Homo sapiens: one gene and its partners. The protein of the gene in region 1 interacts with the protein of each later gene in a biochemical or structural test. Each region holds a gene or a part of one and is shown on either strand. Other genes may lie near its edges.

Region 1 (7,160 bases):
TGGCACAATCTCCAGAGGTTGGAGCACGGGGCTGAACATTCGAATCCCCTAATCACATGGTTGGTTCTTCTGGCAATCAGTCTCCATCCTGAAGCTATCTAGGGGCCTATCAAGAGCCCTCTCATTAACAGAAACTCAGGTAGGGGTGAAAGAGACTTGTTATGAATAACAAAAGATGCTCTTATCACCATCTCTCAGGAAATTACAACGGTTTAAGAAGCTCTATGTCAGGAACTTGGGACAAGACCAAGTATATATTTCTTCTTATCACATGACTGCCGTAGGACTCTCACACTTTATGGTTTCTCAACCTAGGCTACTTCTCTGAAATCTGAATCATTCAGGTCTCTACTCAAATCCTACCTTCCAAGAGAAATCATTCCCTGACCACCTACTTAAAACAGCATCTTCCTCTCCACCCATGTCAATCCCTATCTTATTCCCTTATTCTGCTTTCTTTTCTTTTCTTTTTTTTTGAGACAGGATCTTGCTTTATCACTCAGGCTGAAGTGCAGTGGTGGGATCACAACTCACTGTAGCCTCAAACTCCTGGGCTCAAGCCATCCTCCTGCCTCAGCCTCCCGAGTAGCTGGTTCGACAGGCACACACCATTATGCCCAGCTAATTTTTCTTTTTTTTTTGTATAAACGATGTCTTGATATGCTGCCAGGCTGGTCTTGAACTCCTGGACCCAAACTGCTTTATTTTCTTCATAGTACTTACTAGTACCTGAAATAAAGCTATTGAAGGAAACTAAAACATTTCACCTCAAAACAGACTTATTGGAAATATTTTGAGATGGCCGTTCAGAGGGCCTACAGACAAAAGTAGTCCTACTGTGAGGGAGATGAGCATCTGTTGAGAACCTCCATTGACGCAGCCAGTTTTTCTCAGAGGGCCCTTCCTTGTCTGGATCTGGGTGAGATTAGCTGAATTTGGCACCTTCAAGGTCTGAAACATTTCTTCTCCCTGAGGGCTGCTACCTGTGAGGTTTCATCTACATAAGACCACCTTTGCTAGCCAGGTCTCCTCTTCTCTCCCTCCTATAACCTGATTTACAACCATAACCTGTTTTTGGCCAAGCTTAGAGCCCCCACACTTTCTGTAACCTCAGGATAGTATAATTGTGGCAACCACCTTGCCTTCCTTTGAGATCTTATGTTGTAAGACTCTCACGGCACGTTAGTAAATGTGTATGCCTTCTCTCCTATTAATCTGCCATTTGTCAGTTGATTTTTCAGTGACGCTTCACGGGGCACAAAAGTTTTCCCTTAACTCCTACGCTATACATTTGTTTATCCCTTTTTTTTTCCTATCTCCAACTAGGATGTAAATTCATGAGGGCAAGGTCTCGGTCCTACCTAAATCCCCAGTGTCTAAAACTTTGAGTACTATGTGTTTGAGCACATAGTACACACAAAAAAATTTGTTGAATAAATGTTGATAACAAGATATAATACCTACATCAAAGGGTTTTTGTGAGGATTAAACGCGAGAGTGCACATAGAGGGATATGAGTGCCTAACACAATGCCCAGCACACAGTAAGCTCAATAACGCTGGTCAACGCTATTATCAGAGGATTCCAGAAGACAGGTCAACATGGGCAGGAGCAGTTACAGAACGTTTCAAGGAGGTGGCAGGTCTTGAGCTTGATTTGGAAGGATAATGATTTCTTTCTCTAGGTGGGGACACTGTAGGAAGTTGAAATCTCCTCTGTACAAGCCACCCCTCCCAACATTTCTTCATACTCCTATCAAATGCATAGTCATCATACCCTACAAACCACCTACTAACCAGCCTCTCTCTGTCTGTCCACTAATCCGTTAGTTTTCATTTCTGTATCACCGGAGCCTAGATGAATTCACTACTAAAGGGCACCCAGCAACGTCAGTGAATTAGTTTCAGAAATCTGTGGAAAAGAAACAGCCTACTGTTCTGTCCAGCAATCCAGGCCTAAGTATCTATCCTAAAGAAATAGTGTCAGCATTAAAAATCATGTACAAAGATGTTCACTTGCAAGAGAGAGAGAAAAAAAGTAGCAAACAGAACGTCCACCACTAGGAAACCATGAATAAACTATGATGCGTCCAAACTGTGCAGAGGTTGCACTGAATTAGACAGTTAGTGAAACAATCTCTAAGATATATCGTTAAACTGAAAAAAGAGAATGCACATACAGTGATCTCATTTAGGTAAAACAAAAATTTTAACACCTCATACAAATGAAACCTAAAGATTTCTCTGAATGTGTGCATATTACATATAGATACATGTCTTGTTAACCACTGTATCAACTCAACACTGTGTGCCTGAAACATAGAAAGTTCTCAATAAATATTTGCCGAATGAAGACATATGTACGTGAATAGAAAAAGACTGAAAAATAGATCTGCTTTTTGTGCAAAATATTTCTGTGCTGTTTCCATTTTTAAAAGACTGTCTTAATGTATTACTTGTACAATTAAAATGAATTTAAAACAGTTATAAAAGTTCCAGGACCTCGATATACCATATCTGGTCCAAGCACCAGGCTCTGAGTAACTTCTCCAGGTAACTAACTTCATCGTTTTGAGCCATTAGGGCTCTAGCACAGCAACTCGACGCTCACTTTATCTCTCCAGCATCAGACCCCTTAAAAGCATAAAGATGAATTTTGAGGTGCGGGGTTTTCCATTGCTCCCAAACATCAGTTGACGGCACACTTTTTCTAAAGGGTCCTTTTCTCCCACGCCAAGACATCCCTGGAGCTGGGGTCTGGCTCGGCCTTCCCTGCGCACCCCCTGGGGGCGAGTAAGCGCCGAACGCGGGGAGGAAAATCCTCCTGGTGGGAGTGAGCACGCTGCGCGGACGCGGGGGAACAAAACTCACTTTCCGACTGGCCCCTTCTCTGGCTGTGATCTGTCTCTCCTGCTCAGGCATCGTCCCGCACGGACACCGAATTCTTCTCTGATCTGGCTCAGAGCAAAAGGTCACCTGGTCGGTGGAGGAGAGCGGGGTGTTAAAGTCCCGGGAGAGGAGGCGCAGAGTGTGAGGGCATCGGCGCGGCTCGGCTCTAAAGCAAACAGGGGTCCGGGAACCGCCCCTTCATTTGGGACCGGGGAAGCCGCAGCCCTCTTCACACGGATGATTCAAAGTTGCGCGCCGCCGTCCTCCCGACCTGGGGGCACGGGGATGAGAGCGTGAGGGGAGAGTGGGCCTCGGACCCTCGCCCACTCCCCAGGTGGCTGGGAGTGCCCACCCTGGAACTGCCGGCCCCGCCGGTGCCACAGTGTTCTCTGCCGTGCCAGTGCCACAATGTCCTCTGCCGTGCCGGCGCCGCAGGGCGGAGGCCTGTCCTCCTCCGCGGTCTCGGCCACCTCGCGCTGGTGCGCTCCGACACTGTACTGGGATCTCACGCGTGTGCGGGAGCGGGAGGGCAGGTGAGCTGCGCAGAGCCGGGCCGCAGACTCAGCTCCCAGGGCTCACCCACCGCCTGCGGGGAAGGTGCCCGGCGGCGCCGCGTCGGGTCCGCTCTGCGCTGCCCCCTCCTCGGACTCTGCGCCTGGCTGCCGGACGCCGTGGGTCCCAAAGGAAGCAACCGCGGCAAGAGTGAACTCCGCACCTGGAAAATCGATCCGCTGTGCGCAAAGGCCAGCCAATGGCCTCCAACGGGCGGCGGGCTTTGGGCCGGGAACGGGGGCGCAGGCGCCCAGGCGGGGGCTTCTAGTGGGGGAGGTGGCCGAGGGAGGGAGCGACGGCTGTCAATCACAGGCCACGCCCTCCTCAGCCCAACCCCCCACTGCTGTCCCGCCCACGGGGGCGGGAGCCGTGTGCGCCACGCCGAACACTAGTCTACGCCTCGGCATATTCTATTGGCTGGAAGGCCGTGGGAAGCGGCTACCAGTAACCAATAGTAACGCACAATTGGCCCGTGGGGGCGGGGCGAGCACGGCTTGCTTTCTCAGGAGCCAATAGGGAAAAGGAAAGTGAAGCGTTTCCTGAGTTCGGGGGTCGGCGGAAGATGGCGGCCGGCGAAAGGAGCTGGTGCCTGTGCAAGTTGTTGAGGTGAGCAGCCGGTCGTGTGGGCTCACAGACGTTTTCTCTTCTGTAGGGGTACTTGCCCGTCCAGTGTAGCTAAATTTTGCGGGCAAATGGCCTTCCTTGTCATGAATCTAAGGTAATTTCTCAGGCCAATGAGCAGTCTTTCTTTTTCTTGGGGGTCTTCTATATAGACTGGAATAGACTAGGTCTTAAAGACTCAATTTACCGCGTTTTCTTCTGCTTCACTGTTGGCCGAGGGGTCGAGTTCCCTTCCCTGCTTCAGCTTTTTTTTTCCCTTTCACACTCCAGTTAGTCTGTCATAAATTATTCATATTCATTCCTTATTTTTCTTTACGATTGAGCCACGAGACATTTTCCAATCTATCATGTCTCTTTTCGGTAAAGAAGAAACCGGATCTTCCTTCTCATCTTAGTTTCTACTCTTAAACTCACCAAAACTGCCATTGTTAACACGTCACTTAAATATAAAGCTTATGTTGAATCCTCTGCTTTTTGATAATCTGTTACTTTAATTTTTATGATGTAAGAAGTTACATAAAATATTATTTTATTTGTATTACGTGTATATGCTGTTTCTTCTAGAAAAATTAGAAAATAGATAAGTAAAAGGAAAAAACCCCAGGAATGCTACCATCCGGAGATAGCCACTGTTAACATTTTGGTGAAAAAACTCCCAGGCTTTTTTCCACCTTTGTTGTTGTAGTACTACTGTATTTTAAATGCCTTGCCCTCCACTAATAAAACAGAAGGCCTAGTATATTCTACCTACCTAGTTTTTTTACCACCTACATATTTTTGTTCAGGCTGAAAATTTATAATTAACACCATAGCTTCCTGAATAGCAGTATATACCTAATTCTTTCAAAAGTTCAGGCATTTCTTCTTCGTTTTTGTCCACTCTACTTCAAATTCTGTAATCATTACTTTAAACATTTTGAATGAGAAAGTCTGTTATCAGAGCCTTTTGGTTCTTCCCTGTCATACGTAATATTCCTCAGTGCTTTACATTATAATGTTTAAATAAACTCACTAACCAGACTTAAAGGACAGGTTTAACTTTAGTTATTATGCAGCTTTTAAGTTAAATGTTTAATAGTTCAGTTTGAAAAGCTTGTCACATGAATTTTCCCACCTAAATTATTTGAAGGAATTGCCAGAAAAACCTTTACATTATATGGGTCAGCTGCATTTTAAATAAGCTTTTGAAAGAGTGTCCTGAGAAAGCAAACTGTCCTCTGTAGTGTTGCTTTTATGAATTCATATATTCCAAATGTTAAATAAATGATAAATCTTACCACTTTTGTCAGACTCTGTTCATCCTTTAAGGCAGTGGTTCTCAAATTGTGCTCCATGGACCATGCAGGTCCCAAGGCCCTTCAATGGATCCTCAACAAATCTGTTTTTATAATAACATTAATGTAATATTTGCCTATTTTACTATGTTGATAAGTGCAAAAGTGATAGCGGATAAAACTAAGTGATAGTGGATTTTAATTAACAGTGTGAAAAGGTCATTGATAGGGTTTCAGAGTCTGTATTGCAACTGACATTAAGAAACTGCATAACTTGTCAAATGTGGTCTAGCATCAGAGAAGAATATCTGTAACTAGCTGAAAAGTTAAATATATTTTAAACATAAGATCAATATATATTAAAATATACTCCCTTTTCCTACTACATGTCTAAGTTAGCCTGAATTTTCTTCATATACTTCAACAAAAACAACATATCACTAGATTGAATGCAGAAACAGAAAGGAGGAGCCACTATCTGGTTTCACGTTAAGCCAGACATTAAAAAGATTTGCAAAAAGTGTAAATCATTGGCACCCTTCTTGCTAAATTTCTTTTTTTGGTTTGGAAAAGATAGTTTTTTAATAAAAATATGTTAATGTGTTATGAAAGAATTTTTATTTTCAAATGAATTCATAAAAAGTTTAAAGTTCTTTAGTTTTCATTTCTAATATGCTAAATATTGGTAGATATAAGCAGTGTAAACCACTGGTTCTCAACCAGGGGTGATTTTTGCCCTTCGCAAGACATTTGGCATTTGGCAATATCTGGAGGGCTTTTTTTTTTTAATTTTTTTTTTAGAGATAAGAGTCTTGCTCTGTTGCCCAGGCTGGAGTGCAGTGGCATGATCATAGCTTACTACAGCCTTGAACTCCTGGGCTCAAGCAATCCTCCCACCTCAGCCTCCCAAAATGTTGGGATTACAGGCATGAGCCACCATGCCCAACTGATAATTTTGATTGGGAGGGTGCTACTGGCATCTAAGTGGGTCAAGACCAAAGATGCTACTAAATATAATACATAGGACAACCTCCGCAACAAATAATTATTTGGTCCAAAATGTCAGTAGTGTCAAGGATGAGAAACTCTGATGTAAACAAAAGCTCTATTGTATCCTCAGTAAAATTTTTAAGAGTATAAAGGTGTATAAAGAATATAAAGACCAAATTATTTTAGACCAATTATTTCAGCTTTGAAATAAAGTGCTCATGTGGGATTTCAAATAGAGTCAAATACCTCTTCAAGTACACAGTAGGAAATCCCACATGAGATTTGTTCACAATAGGAACAAATGAGGATTTGTTCACAATAGGAAATCCCACATGAGAACTTTATGTCAAAACTAAATATCAATAAAATATTTACTTCTGGCCAGGTGCAGCAGCTCATGCCTGTAATCTCAATGCTTTGGAAGGCCAAGGCAGGAGGATTACTTGAGGCCAAGAGTTTGAGACCAGCCTGGGCAACATAGCAAAACCCTATTTCTACAAAAAACATTTTTTTAATTAGCTGGGTGTGGTGGCATGCACCTGTAGTTCCAGCTTCTCAGGAGTCTGAGGCAGGAGGATCGCTTGAGCCAAGGAGTTTGGGGCTGCAGTGATTGCTATGATTGCACCACTGCACTTCAGCCTGGGTGACAGAGTGAGACCCTGTATCTAAAAAAAGCAAAATTTACTTTTCTGATGAATTTGTATGTTTTCATGTGGGCAGTGAAAACTATGTGATATGGTTTGGCCGTGACCCCACCCAAACCTCAAGTTGAATTTTATCTCCCAGAATGCCCACATGTTGTGGGAGGGATCCAGGGGGAGGTAATTGAATCATG
Region 2 (8,091 bases), on another chromosome or scaffold:
CCAAGGACCTAAAGTCAACAGATACCTGAAACTTTCTGTCGCTGACTACAGGGAGTAGGTCCCATCCCCCACAGTATAAAGGTCAGAAGCCAGAAACCAGCTTCTGGGTATAAACATTACAGTTCAGTGCTCTCCTCCTCCACCTCTGAGGGGCAAAAATAAATTTGAGGGTGATGGAAAATCTATTTCATGGACAGAGTAATCACTTCTTTATAGGAGAATCTCAAGATTGGCTCTACCACCAGATGCATAACTGGGTAGTTCTGGTTCCTCATGGCCTCTGGGGTCTTTTATAAAGACTTATAAAATGGGTAGATTTTAAAAGCCAGTAGGTTTAAAGTAGGTTTTTAAAGTCAGTAAGTGGGATGATTCTTTTTTTTTTTTTTTTTTTTTGAGACTGAGTCTCACAGTGTCACCCAGGCTGCAGTGCAGTGGCACGATCTCAGCTCACTGCAACCTCCGCCTCCTGGGTTCAAGCGATTCTCCTGCCTCAGACTCCCGAGTAGCTGGGACTACAGGCGTCCGCCACCATGCCCGGCTAATTTTTTTGTATATTTAGTAGAGACGGGGTTTCACCATGTTGGCCAGGCTGGTCTCAAAGTCCTGACTTTGTGATCTGCCTGCCTTAGCCTCCCAAAGTGCTGGGATTACAGGCATTACCCGCCGCACCTGGCCTATTATTATCCCTTCTTGACAGATGAGGAAACTGAGATTTAGGGGTTAGTTCACACACTCACGGTGATTCGGCTGAGTAGGGCCTGAATTGAACATAGTCAGCCTCTAAAACCTCAATGCTTAACCACTGAGATCTTGTTAAAATGGGATTGAAAGCTGCCTGCCTATAGTTTTCTCTTCTCTTCTCTTCTTTCTTTCTTTCTTTTCTTTCTCTCTCCTTCCTTCCTTTTTTTTTTTTCTTTTGAGACAGGGTTTCACTTTCACTCTGTCACCCAAGCTGGAATGCAGTGGCACGATCACGGCTCACTGCAGCCTCAACCTCCCAGGCTCCAGCAATCCTCCCACTTCAGCCTCCCAAGTAGCTGGGACTATAGGCACGGGCCACCACGTCTGGCTAATTTTTTGTATTTTTTGTAGAGCCAGGGTTTCATCATGTTGCCAAAGTTGGTCTCAAGCTCCTGCATTAAAGTGATCTGCCCGCCTGGGCCTCCCAAAGTGCTGGGATTACAGGCGTGAGCCACCATGCCCGGCCTCACCTGCCTATAGCTCTAGCCCACCTGTCCTACGTCTACACAGGAGCTACCATTTCTTGGGGACTAGATATATCAGTGGCTGTGTGACATATTTTACTGGCATTTTTCCAGTTAATACTAACAACAGTCCTGTGAGGTCAAAGTTTTTGTCCCTATCTTACAGATGAGGAAATCAAGGCAGTGAGATAAAGCAACTTGCCTGAGGTCACCCAGTTGGCAAGCTGGGGCACAGATTTTCAGAGGTTTCTGGGATTCCAAACCCTGTGCTCTCGGGCATTTGTCTGAGAAAACTCTCAGGTAACACACTCTTCCCCTTCCAGTATGTGTATATAGATATATTTTTTTCTTCCCTTTCCAGTTTTGAGGAAATCCCTTGACTAACACCCTCTTTCCTTCAGCTGTTATCTTGTGGTACATGGTGCCAAGTGCCCTCCTCATTCCCATCATCTGCTCCAGAGGGTTTTTTGTCAAAATCCCCAGAAGATACAGAATACAGTGATGATCAAGCTAGCCTTTTCCTCATTGCCACCCCCCACAAAAAATCCTGGTGGCCTTCACTCCCCAAGCCCCAGGGCAATTAATACTGTCTTCTACCATTGCCACAGGCTGACTTGCCCAACTGGTAGGGCTGATTCTATCAGATTCCTTATCCATACTTTGTTGTTGGAGGATTTGTCTCAAGGCACCTGGCAAGACCCACAGGAAATGACACCTGAGATGTCAGTGGCTCTGCCCAGGAGGCCTCAGGCTCACCTGCCAGCTCCCTAAAGACAGGATGCAAAGACACATGGCAACTGTGGGATACCTCTGGGTATCCACCTGGCCCAGAGCCATGAATTAGGCACCCTGAAGAAAATGCTAAACACCACATGACCCTAACCAAGATGCAACTGAGATCAGAGCATCTTCCCAAGCCGGTGTGACTGCTTTTGCCTGGCACCTCCCATGTGGTCAGGCCTGGAGAGATGGGGAGCCTAAGGATAAGGAGCTGAATCCTGGCTCTGCCAACTTCAACACGACCTGGAATAAGTTACTGGGCTTTTTATATTTTTATCTGCCAAAGGCCTCAATTCTTTATATAAAAAACGAGGCCACGAGCAACAATATATGTGATAAGACTGAGTGATCTGCAAAGGCAGGCTAAGACTGACTTCCCAGACACAGCCACTGAGCAACTGGTGACTGTGCGGGGGGGTTCCTGAACCTCTCTGGGGCTCATGGGTTCAGGCTGAGAAAGTGTCTCCATTCAGTGTCGCCCAGAGTTGATCTGAAAAGTAGGCCAGAGTGGGCAGGGAAATTAAGAAAAGCATGAACCTCTGAAAACCTGCCCGGTCCGTGAGGAAATAACCGGGTCCACTCCCTTGTCCAGAGCCTCCCCACCGCCCTCCTTCAGGCCAGCTCCGCGGGCAGGGCAGCCAGGAGGAAGGCTCAGGGACTAGGCGTCTCAGTTCCCGCTGGCCACCAACTCCCCCATCCCCTGCCCCCTCTCTGGTTCTGTTTCTCTGTGTACGCAGGGAAGGTGTGGGCTTGTCGCCCCTGGAGGCCTTCCAGCTCCGACGTTTTGAAGCCTGGCTCCCAGATTAAACTCCCTTCGGATCCCATTTTCTGAAGGGTCGCAAAAGCTGGGGGCTGGGTGGGGTAAGCTAGGGGACAACAGCGGCTCCGGCCGCCGCCTGAGCCCTTCAAGATCAGCATCCGGTCAAGCGGCTGTGCAGCCGAGAAGCAACCCGGGACTGCAAGTCTGCGTGGCGGGGACGGCGCAACCACTCACCGGCATGACTGAGGCAGCGGCGGTGTGGCGGCGGTGTGGCGGCGGTGTCAGCAGCGCCTCTCTGGATTCGGAGGGCGGGTTCGGCTGCGCTTCCGAGAGTGCGCACTAGAGGCCTGGTCCCGGAGGCCCCTCCCACTCCGGGCCCGGCCGCGAGGGAGGCTCCGCCCCCTCCAGTCCTGATCCCTGCCGGCCGCGCCGCCTCCTTTCTGCGGGCCGGGCCCGTGGTCACCCGGCCTGGACGGAGAGAGGAGGTGAGAGGGGCGCTGCGTTGGCCTCCATCGACTGTCGGCCTTTTTCAGAACGCCTACTTCGGGTCAAGCTTGTGTTAGGGAATGCCAGAGAAGGGCACCGCCTTGAACAGGACATCATCCATCCATCCCTAAAAGGACAGTTTCACTCATTTATTCACCGAGTCAATTTTTATTAAGCGCCAGCCAACGAGGACGCAGCGGTGGAAGAGCAGCAGCAGGAGGCTGCGAAGGACGCAGGCAGTGATAGTGCAGGGTTAGCAGAGCTGTTGTGACAGAGGAGGAAGGGCCCTGACTGCAGTGGGGTGGGGGCGGTTGTGGAAGAGAGGCGGCCTGGGGAGAAGGCAATAATCTGGACCTCGGTTAGCCTTTATCGCCCTGTTACAGGCTTTGTCTCTAAATACAGTCGCATTGGGGGTTAGGGTATCAACATAGGAATTTGCGGGGACACAATTCATGTCCATGTCAGAGTTCAGTCCCTAGCAGAGCCATACTGACTAGAGTTTTAATCTCAGCCCTATCATTTATTAGCCATGTGACCCTGGGCAGATGAACTTACCTCTCTAAGCCTCAATATCCTCACGTATAAGATGGGGACAGTTAAGGTCACTATACAATTTTTTATCTGAACCTTTTGCTAGAGAAAGGAGATGCTATTAATAATTTTGCCAGGACAACAGGCAAACACCATGACTGTTTCAGGCAAACAACGACACATGGTTCCCTCCAAGAAACCTACTTTGCAGTATTGTTGGAATACATGTAATGTGTGCAAACTTCTTAATACATTGCTTGGCACATGGTAGGCACCAAAAATATATATAAGTATTCTCTAATTGCTAGGCCCTCTGTTGGCCTCCCTGGCACTGGGTCTTCCGCTGCTCACAAAATACCCCTTAACCATTCATCCCCTACCCAACCTGCCAGGAATTCCCTAAAGATGGAAGGGAAGGGGGCGAGGAGGAGAGGGAAAGAGGGTACTGGCACATTAGGTCCTGTACGGGCAAGGCTTAGCATCTTGGTAGTCCTGGGTACAACTGTGCCCTGGGGCTAGGGATAGCTAGATTGCCATGAGGGAAGGCGGAGAGTGGACATGAGGGAAGGAAATCCTTCCCAAAGCAACAGTACACAGGGCGAACCACCCACGGCATGTTTTAGAGAATTAGGGGTATGGGTTGGGGGGATGGCTAAGCCTAGAGACAGCAATTTAAAGAGAAGACAGCTTTATAAAGATCTGTTAAAGATCACAAATAAAGACCTATTAAAGAGGAGAAGAAAATATGCCAGACTGTAGTTCCTGCATAAATATATACATACATTCCGTGTATTTACATTAAAATAAGCATGAAATGAACCACAGCCAATGTTACTAGAAGTTATCTTGGATAAGTGTAGGATTTGCAGGTGGAATCCCAATGTACCTACTGTTTAATTTTCAAATAACACAAAGTAGCGTACAGTGAAAAGTAGGTCTTCCTCCTACCCTGACCTCTCCTTCTTAAACAAAAGGCATAGTATACACAGTTTTGCATCCTGCTTTTCTCACTTTATAAAATATCTTAGAGATTATTCCTGGGCCAGATGCAGTGGCTCATACCTGTAATCGCATTGCTTTGAGAGGCCTAAGTGGGAGGATCACTTGAGCCCAGGAGTTTGAGACCAGACTAAGAAACATGGTGAAACCCTGGCTCTACAAAAAATACAAAAATTAGCCGGGTGTGGTGGCATATGCCTGTGGTCCCAGCTACTCAGGAGACTGAGGTGGGAGCATCACTTGAGCTCAGGAGGTCAAGGCTGCATTGAGCCATAAGTACACCACTGCACTCCAGCCTGGGTGACAGAATATGACCCTGTATTTAAAAAAAAAAAAAAAAAAAGATTATTCCTTAATAGTACATATCAACCCTTTTCTTTCTTAGCTTTTTTTTTTTTTTTCCCCGAGATGGAGTCTTGCTCTGTCGCCCAGGCTGGAGTGCAGTGACGTGATCTTGGCTCACTGCAACGTCCGCCTCCTGGGTTCAAGCAACTCTCCTGCCTCAGCCTCCCAAGTAGCTGGGATTATAGGCGCCCACCACCATGCCCGGCTAATTTTTGTATTTTTAGTATTTTTAGTAGAGACAGAGTTTCACCATGTTGGCCAGGCTGGTCTCGAATTCCTGACCTCGTGATCTGCCCACTTTGGCCTCCCAAAGTGCTGGGATTACAGGCAATGAGCCATCACTAAGCCAGTGAGCCTGGGAAATGGGCATATAGAATCCCTGCTTTCTGGCTGAAAGTGTTGTTGCAAGGATAGGAATGTGCACACTGTAGGCATGTATAGATGGTGGGTTCTTCCTGGTGTAATCTACTTCTAGACCCAGCCTCCTGGGATGACCCTTTCTTTGACAGATGCTGAGGAGTTTAATTCTTTGCAAAGAAAGGTTTTGTAGCTGCTGCCTGCTCCCCGATATCCCCACCGCAGGAAACCAAGTGTCTGTTTTTTGTATCATAACACAGGTATACACCACTTGCCTCACTGCTTTATCCACCAACGGACCCTTTATCTGGGACCAAAGATTCTGAGCTGAAAGGGCCCTCAGAGCAGCCAAGGCATGCATGAGAAGAGAAGGGCTATGAAGTGGAAGCTGAGGGAGCGTGGACTGCAGGCTTGGGAGAGGGAGCATGGTGTCCTGCAGAGCCACATGCTGGCAGAACTGGGTCTACAGACACATTTTATTCAGTCCCTAAAGTATTCAAAATATTTTTTGATTAGTTGACAACAGTTAAGAACTCTGAGTATGCTTGTACAACATTGTGAATATATTTAATGCCACTGAATTATACACTTAAAAATGGTTAGAAAGAGGAATTTTATGTTCTGTATGTTTTACCACAATTAAAAATAGGGCATGGTGGCTCATGCTTGTAATCCCAACACTTTAGGAGTCCCAGGCAGGAGAATTGCTTCAAGTCCAGCCTGGCAATATAGCGAGATTTTGTCTCTACAAAAAATTTAAAAATTAGTTGGACATGGTGTTGTGCACCTGTAGTCCCAGCTACTTGGGAGGCGGAGGTGGGAAGATCACTTGAGCCCAGGAGGTCAAGGCTGCACTGAGCCGTGATCGTGCCACCACACTCCAGCCTGTGTGACAGAGCAAGACCCTGTCTCAAAATAAAAATAAATAAATAAATTTATTTATTTCTAGACTGACATGTAAAATTAGTTGCTTTCTTATTACAAGACTAGGAAAAGCATTTTTAAAAATAAAAATTCTAAATAGTTTTTAATTTTTATTTTTTGAGACAGGGTCTTGCTGTGTCACCTAGGCTGGAGTGCAGTAGCGTGAACATGGCACACTGCAGCTGTGACCTCCTGGGCTCAAGGGATCCCCTGACCTCAGCCTCCTGAGTAGCTGGGACCACAGGTGCATGTCCCCACACCCAGCTATTTTTTTGTATGTTTTTGTAGAGATGGGGTCTTGGCATGTTGATCAGGTTGCTCTCATAAGCAATCCTCCTGCCTCGGCCTCTCAAAGTGCTGGGATTACAGGCGTGAACCACCGCACCTGGCCTAAATAAGTTTTTAAAAAGGGTGATGGGCGGGTGCAGTGGCTCACGCCTGTAATCCCAGCACTTTGGGAGGCAGAGGCAGGCAGATTACTTGAGGTCAGGAGTTCAAGACCAACCTGGCCAACATGGCGAAACCCCGTCTCTACTAAAAGTACAAAAATTAGCTGGGCATTGTGGTGGGTGCCTGTAGTCCCAGCTACTTGGGAGGCTGAGGCAGGAGAATCGCTTGAACCCCGGAGGTGGAGGTTGCAGTGAGCCGAGATCGCGCCACTGCACTCAAGCCTGGGCAACAGAGCGAAACTCTGTCTCAATAATAATAATGATAATAAAAAGGGTGAAACCTATTCAGTTAAAGTCCTCAGAATATTTCCATTGTATTTTTTAGGCAAGACCAAAAGTTTTCGTACTATCAGTAAATGTTTTAAAAAAAGAACATTGAGTCACATAACCTAGAGTTTTAATATTTCCTGAAAAACTGAAAGATCTGGAAACATGTCTATGACTGACAGGATAGGCCAAGTAATATTGTAGTAACAAACAATCCCAAAGCCTCAATGGCTTAAAATGACGAAGATTTATCTCTCCTGTGATATGCCCATAACTGGCTGAGTGGGTTGAAGCTGGAGGAGTGGCTCTGTGCAAATTGGTTTTGCTCAAGCACCTGGTTTGAGGAAGAGTCACCATATAGAATGGCACTGATCTGAAAGTGTCCCACCAAAATTCGTATGTTGAAACCTAATTGCCAATGTGATAGTATTAAGAAGTGGGGCCTTTGGGAAGTGATTAAGTAATGAGGGAAGAACCCTCATGGAAGGGATTAGAGAATTTATAAAAGATGTTGAAGGGAGTACCGTAAGCCTTTTTTGCCCTTCTGCCATGTGAGGGGACAGTGATCATCTTAGAAGCCATCATAGTCCCCAGCACTCTTTAGTGGACTCCCAACATAGCAGCCAATGGTCAGGGAACATCTGCCATGCTCTCCTCTTCCTCCTTTGTTCTCTGTACCCCTGGGGCTTCAGGTTTCTAAAGATGTGTTTAATGAGACAACCCAGACAAACCTGCGTTCAGTTCCTTGCTGTTTCAGGCATTTAATCTCTCTGACTCTGTCTCTTCTCTTGTAAAATAAAGATAATAATTAGACGTAGCTCATCGTGCTGTGGTGAGCAGTATGAAAAGTTTCTTTTTTTTTTTTTTTTTTTTTTTGAGATGGAGTCTTGCTCTGTTGCTCAGGCTGGAGTGTATTGGCATGATCTTGGCTCACTGCAACTACCATCTCCTGAGTTCAAGTTATTCTCCTGCCTCAGCGTCCTGAGAA
Region 3 (7,470 bases), on another chromosome or scaffold:
TTTTCCAAACTCTGCCTCACTACAGGAGCCCCAGAAGCAGAGTCAAACTCATTGGAGGCCAGGAGCCTGTAGCCATGGCCACAGAAATCTATGGACACTGGGCTCTCCTCCGCAAAGGCTATCCTCTCACCATCAGCCTTGGCCTCTGGCCTTCTACTGTTCTCAGGGCTGCAAAGCACTGGCAGACCCAAGGCCTGTCCCCATCCCTAGGTACTAACAGGAACACACACAACCCACACACTAACTTGGGTCATTTCTACCCACGGAAGCCTCAAAGTTATTGTATGTATAATATAAAATCTGAACTGTGTGTATGTACACCAGCCAGAGACAGACAGAAAGAGTGTGTGGGGCAGGGCGCGGTGGCTCACGCCTCTAATCCCAGCACTTTGGGAGGCCCAGGCAGGCGGATCACCTGAGGTCGGGAGTTCGAGACCAGCCTGACCAACATGGAGAAGCCCCGTCTCTACAAAAAATACAAAATTAGCCAGGCGCGGTGGCACCCGCCTGTAATCCCAGCTACTCGGGAGGCTGAGGCAGGAGAATCACTTGAAACCGGGAGGCGGAGGTTGCCGTGAGCCGAGATTGTGCCACTGCACTCCAGCCTGGGCAACAGGAGCAAAACTCCGTCTCAGAAAAAAAAAAAAAAGTGTGTGTGTGTTTACACACACACACTTACGTAAGGTGTCGTACCTACCCTCCTGCCCACAACTGCCCGGTGGACAGGAGGATCTAAAAAACGAAGAAGGATGGGTCATTAAGGTATGGAGAGAGACCATAGTTAAATATGGTCCCCTACAGCCAGGAGTGCTCATGCTGGGCTGGGTGTGTGAACTCCACGTGTGTCCCACAGGCTCCAAGGAGTCTGCAAGTCCTGTGACCAGGGGCAGCAAGGGATGCTGGACATGGCTCAGAGGCGCTGGAAGTGATATTGGCACCAGCACCTGTGGTGTGAGTTACAACCAGTACGAAGGGAAGACAGGGCTGGGAAACAAAGGCCTCTCCCAGAGCCTGTTCGGGATCAATAAGAGGGCTCCTAGACTCCAAACCTCGCTTACAGGAGTGTTAGAAAGACCGCGCAGGCCCAGGACCCTCCCCGTGTCTGTCTTACAGCGACCAATATTGCAGTGAATGCACTGAGAGCAAGGAACAGCAAGGTCTCTCCCTCACTCTTCGAACACTGCTTGCTTGCCTCCACCCCCAGAAGGAGCTCTATCAGTTCAGGAGCCACCAAGCTCACGCAGAAAGGATTCACAGGACGGCTGGTCAAGACATTTTTGCTGCCCGCCCCGGGGTGGGGACGGAGGCCGTCAAGGTTGGGATGAGCATTCAGCCGAGCCGAGCCACCGCGTGCTTTCCCGCAGACATCGGGGTTTCTGAGAACTAGGAGGGAACAGCCAAAAGAATGGAAGCTTGGCGCCCTGAAACAAGCCTTTTGGGTCCTGAGGGAAATCTGGGCGCCCACGGGCAGCCGTCTCCCCCACCCGCCGCTCGGCGCCCGCGATCCGGCTGGCGCTGGCTGCAGCGTCCAGCCAGGCGGCGCGGGGAAGAGCCGGCGATAACCCGCCCGAGCTCCGGGGATCGACCGCGCTCTCACACCCCCCCAGTTCCCAGCGACCCCCACCGAGACTTGGAGACGACTTCAGCAAACTTGGGGAAGCAACTTTTCCCGAGGAGCTAGACTCCTGAAAGAAGGAGAGCTGAGCTAGGGACGAGGGAAAGCGAAAGAGACGGGGAGGAACGGCGACAGTCCGGGCGGGCTGGACTCCGCGGCGAGAGCGGCAGGGGAGGCGGACCCGCCCCGCGGCGAAGGGGAAGCACAAAAGCCCCGCAGCGAGTTGTGGGAGGAAAGGCGAGAAGGGGTCTGCCCGCCCTCCCTCTCCGACCCAGGGCCGTGACCCCCTGGGAGCGACCGGCTGGGTCCCAGGCCTCTGGCCAGCGGCGCCAGCGGCCAGCGCGCCCGGCCCAAGCACGGTGCGAGCGTCTCGGGGAGGCGGCGAGCGAGTCGGTGCGGAGCGCTCCGTGCGTCCGGGTGGTTCCGCGGGCCGGCGGGACCGTGCGCATTTCAAGCGCGTGCGGGAGTGTGCGAGGCGCTGTGCGAGCTAGCGGCGGGCGCGCCAGGGTGGGAAAGGCATCCCGAACGCATCAGGTGCAGAGACCGGCACCCACCGAGAGCGGCCGGGAGCGCACGGCGAGCTCCGGTGTCACCGCCGGTCCCGCCGAGAGCCGAGGAGGGCCCGCAGCGCTGCAGACCCTCTGGAGCTTCCCTCCCTCCCCTGCAAAAGGGGGGTGGGGATCAAGTCCAATCAAGAAAAAGCCCACCACGTTTTCTCAAAGAGAAACAAAACGTAAGCAGTCCCAGTCCTGCTCCCCTCCGCCCCCAGATCTACTCGTCAGCTCCTCCGATTCTAGCTTCCCAGCCGGCCGGCGAATAAACACACAAATAAATAAACCACAACCTTATCTTGCGCCCGCGCACCGGTCCGCATACATAAGAGCACCCACGGGCTCTGTTGCTCCGCCAGCCCCTGGCGGTACAAAGCCTCCGGATCCCCGACCCCTCTGCTCACGCCCTCAGCCCCCGCACACCGCTACGCCCCCCACCTCTCACCCCGACCGTGCCCTGAAGAGGAAGGGCTGGGGAGGCAGCTGCGCCCAGGCTGACAGCCGGGGCTCCCCCTTCTAGCCGACCCCCAACCGGTGGCGGCGACGGCTGCAGCGGCAGGAAGGGAACACGCCAAATAAAAAAGGCACAAGCCCAGCGGCCGAGTGGCCGAAGCGAGCGCGCGCCCCCCAGACCTCTCCAGCCCCGGGAAGCCCCGGCGCGCGGCGCTCGCTGGGCGGTGCGCCTCTTCCCGGCCCCTCACTCACCGCAGCCGAGCCGGGCACTGTGGGGTGGGTGTGCGTGCCTGTCGGGGGGTGTGTGCCTGTGTCGGGGAGGGGTGTTGCTGGGGAACTGTTGCTCTCCGTATCACGGCGGCAGCGACAGCATCGCCCGGCAGTTCGCAGTACCCGCTCTCATCGCCCTCAACTCCTCTCTGCTGCGAGGTTAGCAAATCACCACCGGCTGCTGCGCCTCCGCCGCGTCCCACGTCAACGCCGAGCCCCCTCCCCTGCAAGGCCCCGGCGCCTCTCCATCTTTAGTGCTGGCGGCCGAGCCCGGCTCCCTGCCCACAGCTGCCCCCCTTCCCTCCCCCCTCCCGCGCCGTCCCCGGGCTCAGCCCGCCCACCACCCCGCACTGGCCGAGCCCGCGCGCGCTCCCCGCCCCACCCCTCCTTTCCCCTCCCCTCCCTTCCCCTCCCTTCCCCGCGCTCCGCGCTCCGGGCTTCGCCTGACATCTAGCTGCTGCTGGGGCGCCGGCGGCCGCCTCTCACCGGCCGAGCGGAGAGGAAGGAAGGAGCCAGAGGACAGGAGTGCATGGGGACTCAGAATCCTTAATAGGGGAACTGAGGGTGAAGGGCGCGCAGCAGCCCCCACCTACTCCCAAGATTTTAATTTGCACTGGATACGGGTTTTGTCCCCCCCTCCCCGCACCCCGGTGCTCAAGCACGCAGTTTTGTCTCCTCTTCCAATGTTTGCCCCAATTCAGTGCGTGTCATCTCGCCTTTAACTTTTTTCTCATGGCTCGGGGCTGCAGTCCCCCTGACATCTGTTTTAAAAGGCCGCTTTCCTAGCCCAAACCCGGCCCTCTCATCCTCCTGGTTACTGCGCGCCTCCCGGCTTGAGCATCCGGATTTCAATAAGTCTCCCGAGGCAGAGTTCGCGGGCGCTAGTGAACCAGGTGCCAGAAGGTCCGCGGGGATCTATTGTCGAAGCGAGACACCCGTTTTTAGCTGTCGCGATTGCTGGAGGCCAAGGTCGAGTCCTGGGAGAAACTTTTCTCTCTCCCAAACCTTGGACAGCCTCTCGGCTCTGCCCTCATCCTACCCCCCCGCCCCCCAGCAATCTGGGTGGAAACAGTTCCCGAGAACTGCGCCCAGCTCAGTGCACAGTCTTCAGGGGGCAGGGGGAAGCTTGGACAACCTCTGGGCCCCTCAAAAGTGTGTCCTCCTTCAGCTGGCCGCCCTACTTCAGAGGGTAGAGCAGCCAAAGAAAATGTACTCTTCCTCTGACTGCAGAAAGCTGCCCTCTCCCCTTTTCCCTGGAGCTGAGCGAAGGTAGGGTGCCAGAGGCGGGAAGCGCTCTTCGGGCACGGGCTGTGGATTCTGACCGAAGCCCAGGAGGTTGGGGTGGGAGGTGGGGGTGGCCGAGAGCGCCATCCAGGGTTCTCAGGCCAGTCAGCCCTCGAGGTCACGCGGTTTTAGCAATGCGGAGCTTATGTCACCAAGGCCTGAGTCTGCATGTTCTGTCCGTGACTCACGGGTGGGCCAGAGGTTTTCCGCAGGACTCACCTAGAATCACACCTCCATGCGTGCCTCTGGCACTGCCCCAGACCCAGTCCCATGAACTGTAGGGTCATGGAAGGTGGCAGAAATCTGTATCTGTTCGCTGAAGGCCAGGCGGTAGAGTTTACACATCGGAACTGATCCGGGTTCACAAGAGCCGCTCATGAGGCAGCCCCAAAGACGGGTCATTCCATCCCAGCAAGAGCCACTCCTGACTCTTAAGAGCAGGGAAAGCTCAGCCCAGCAGGAGTCTGCGGAGAGAGCTGGGCAGGGGAACACACTTGAGTGAAGGAAGGGCTCCTCTGATAGCACGGGATACAACCACATCAAACCCAGGGCAAGCGGAGGGGAAGCCCAGTCCCTGGGTATTCATTTCATTAACAATAAAGAGCAATCCCATTTAGAGACTACCTGTTTTTCTAACTAAGGTCTATACACCCTGTTAGAGGAAAGGGATTTAAAGAAAGTTAGGAAAGAACTGGGCTGCAAGGAGAGCAAGAGTGGAGGGATGTAAGGAGAGGAGAAAAGACCCTCCTGGTGCCTCACCAGGGAAACAGAAGAAAGAATCACTACACTTGTTGAGCTTCTGCCTAGATAGTGCCTGCTGGAGGTTTCCGCTTTGCTGTCCACATCCACCTACCAGCCTCTCCTCAGTGCAGTAGCAGGAGAAGCACACAATTAACCCCTGATCCTAATCTCCTATTAATCCTCAAATCAGAGAAAGAGAGAATCTCTGGAAACAATGGGAGAGAAAGCACAATCCTCTATGGCCCTGGCCTCCCCACCCCCGTGCCATATTCACTCTATGTGAAAATCTCCCTTGCTTCATAAACGCTGCCCATTAAAAGCCCAGCCCTTGTTAGTAAGTGTTAAAGAGAGATTAATGCCTGAATTTAAGAGGTGGAGAAGGTAACAAAAAGGAAGAAGGCAGGCGAGGCTGTGGGCTGAATGCCAGCATTGGGCTCCAAGCATTTCCACTTAGCGCTGAAGGCTGGCTGCACAGCAGTTTGATAAGGTTTATTGGGCCCAGATAAAGCAGCAGCAGCTCCCCCACCAAAACTGGCACCATTTATAGCCAGAGCTATGTCCTTGGGTCCTGGGAAGGCTGATGAGAATCCTCAGTTCAGAGATTTCATATGGCAGCACCTAAAAACAAGCAGGATGGAAAATTACAAGAGAATACTCAATCTCTCTCGCGCGCACATGCCCGCTCTCTTTCTGTCTCTCTCATGTTCGTGTATTTAGAGTGATTTTTCTTTTACATTTTTTCTTGAAGCGTCTTTTAAGGGAAACCTGGGTATCAGTTCTAAAAATACAGGAGATCTCAATCTTAGGGGGAGATCATGCTAGAGACAGAGGAATAGATGAGCTGGCCTTTGCATGGAATTCCATTGCTAAATCTTACTCCCTCATCTCCCTCTTTACCCATGTACCTCCCACCACTGGCAGCCTTTCAGAGCTCAGTTAGTGGAACAGGAGGGTATAGCAGTTCTAAGAGATCATACAGGAAGGAGACAGCGAAAATAATAACTCATTCTGAGCACTGACTACGAAACTCAACACATTACCTATGTTGTTTTATTTAATCCACATAACAATCCTATTAATGCAGGTGCTATTATTTTCCCAATTTCTGTGGACATGAAAACTGAGGTTCAGAGAGATTAAGTGCCTTACTGCAGACTGTAGATCTATTAAACATCAGAGCTGAAACTTTAAATCAGACCATTCTGACTGCAAAGCTCATGCTCTTAACTTCTAGATTATGTAGCCTCTAGTGAAATAGATGAAGGAAGCAAGGGCTTTTAATTTTCCTTCTTCTCTTACTCTGCTGAGGCCAAGATCTGTGCAGCAGCCAGCCAAGCTGAGGACCAAATGGTTCTCAGCTTGGTCACCAGGTAAAGAGACTTAGATCCCCCAGGATCTTACACTTTTCCTCCTCCCTCAGAATCTCAGGCAGAAATTGGGGAGGGGGCTTTGAATTACAAAAAAAAACTTCAACTAAAGAGATAGGAAGAAGAATACAGTGGTGTTTTGAGTATCTGAGTATGAATGGAATGTTGCAACTCTTTAAGTTCCAACTCTTAATTTGGAACATATATTTAATTTTTTTATTTCAAAGTAAACTTTTCTATCGTGATTAAAAAAATCAAAGATCCCTACCTTTTGGGGAGAAGATGCCACTTTGCATTTCCCCAAAAACTTGTGATGAGTGGAAAATGAAGCATGTTCAGGGAGAGATGCAGGTAGTGACGCCCCTGAGTAGAGGAAAAGTATTCTCTGCAGTTGAGAACTCCAGATTGCCACTGGGGAACGTACCAGGGCATCAGACCTTTACCCTGCCAGGGACTGTTAGGGGAAGACACCGCAAGCCTATTGTGTCCATTTCTGGAGTCAAAAAATCTTACAGTCTTACAGTCCTTCAGATCATCATTCCAGACATCTACTATAGAGCTGTAGGTGATGTCAACAATTGGGCAGAGTAGGCTGGGCGCAGTGGCTCATGCCTGTACTCCCAGCACTTTAGGAGGCCGAGGCAGGCGGATCACTTGAGGTCAGGAGTTTGAGACCAGCCTGGCCAACATGGTGAAACCCTATCTCTACTAAAAATACAAAAATTAGCCAGGCGTGGTGGCACGTGCCTGTAATACCAGCTACTTAGGGGGCTGAGGCGGGAGAATCGCTTGAACCTGGGAGGTGGTGGCTGCAGTGAGCTGAGATTGCACCACTGCCCTCCAGCCTGGGTGACAGAACAAGATCTCATTTCAAAAAAAAAAAAAAATTAGGCAGAGTGGAATTTACTCCTGCATATGTTGACATTTTGTTTTTGTTTTTAAATTTTAATTCTTTTACATTATGTCCTTAGATGCCCCCTCCAAAAAGCAGAGGGGGAAAGAATCAGGTGATGTATGCATTCCGGTTAGTTGAGGCTCAGCAAACCAAATAAGACAGCTTCTTTGATTAGTGATTGCCATCATCCCTCATCCCCCACCCCACCACTACCACCACCATCACCGCCCCAACCAACAGAGACCTGGTTAGTGGTGTTTACAAACTTGAGTTTCTCTCCCAGGTGCCAAGTAT

Evidence for each region.
Region 2: the proteins of ATP7B (region 1) and ATOX1 form a complex in vitro, tested with the Homo sapiens proteins (3 studies listed by BioGRID and IntAct).
Region 3: the proteins of ATP7B (region 1) and ZBTB16 form a complex in vitro, tested with the Homo sapiens proteins (one study listed by BioGRID).

The regions. Positions count from the first base shown.
Region 1 is NC_000013.11:52,008,417-52,015,576, forward strand, and holds the start of ATP7B (copper-transporting ATPase 2), read right to left. Parts: upstream 3,035-7,160; 5' UTR 2,922-3,034; coding exon 2,871-2,921; intron 1-2,870. Other genes in the region: ALG11 (GDP-Man:Man(3)GlcNAc(2)-PP-Dol alpha-1,2-mannosyltransferase), read left to right, coding at 4,003-4,046. UniProt on the Homo sapiens protein: Copper ion transmembrane transporter involved in the export of copper out of the cells. It is involved in copper homeostasis in the liver, where it ensures the efflux of copper from hepatocytes into the bile in response to copper overload.
Region 2 is NC_000005.10:151,755,567-151,763,657, forward strand, and holds the start of ATOX1 (copper transport protein ATOX1), read right to left. Parts: upstream 3,066-8,091; 5' UTR 2,986-3,065; coding exon 2,980-2,985; intron 2,795-2,979; exon of another isoform or gene 2,723-2,794; intron 1,506-2,722; exon of another isoform or gene 1,372-1,505; intron 1-1,371. UniProt on the Homo sapiens protein: Binds and deliver cytosolic copper to the copper ATPase proteins. May be important in cellular antioxidant defense.
Region 3 is NC_000011.10:114,055,284-114,062,753, reverse strand, and holds the start of ZBTB16 (zinc finger and BTB domain-containing protein 16), read right to left. Parts: upstream 3,044-7,470; 5' UTR 2,872-3,043; exon of another isoform or gene 2,612-2,871; intron 2,513-2,611; exon of another isoform or gene 2,460-2,512; intron 2,248-2,459; exon of another isoform or gene 2,170-2,247; intron 1-2,169. UniProt on the Homo sapiens protein: Acts as a transcriptional repressor. Transcriptional repression may be mediated through recruitment of histone deacetylases to target promoters. May play a role in myeloid maturation and in the development and/or maintenance of other differentiated tissues.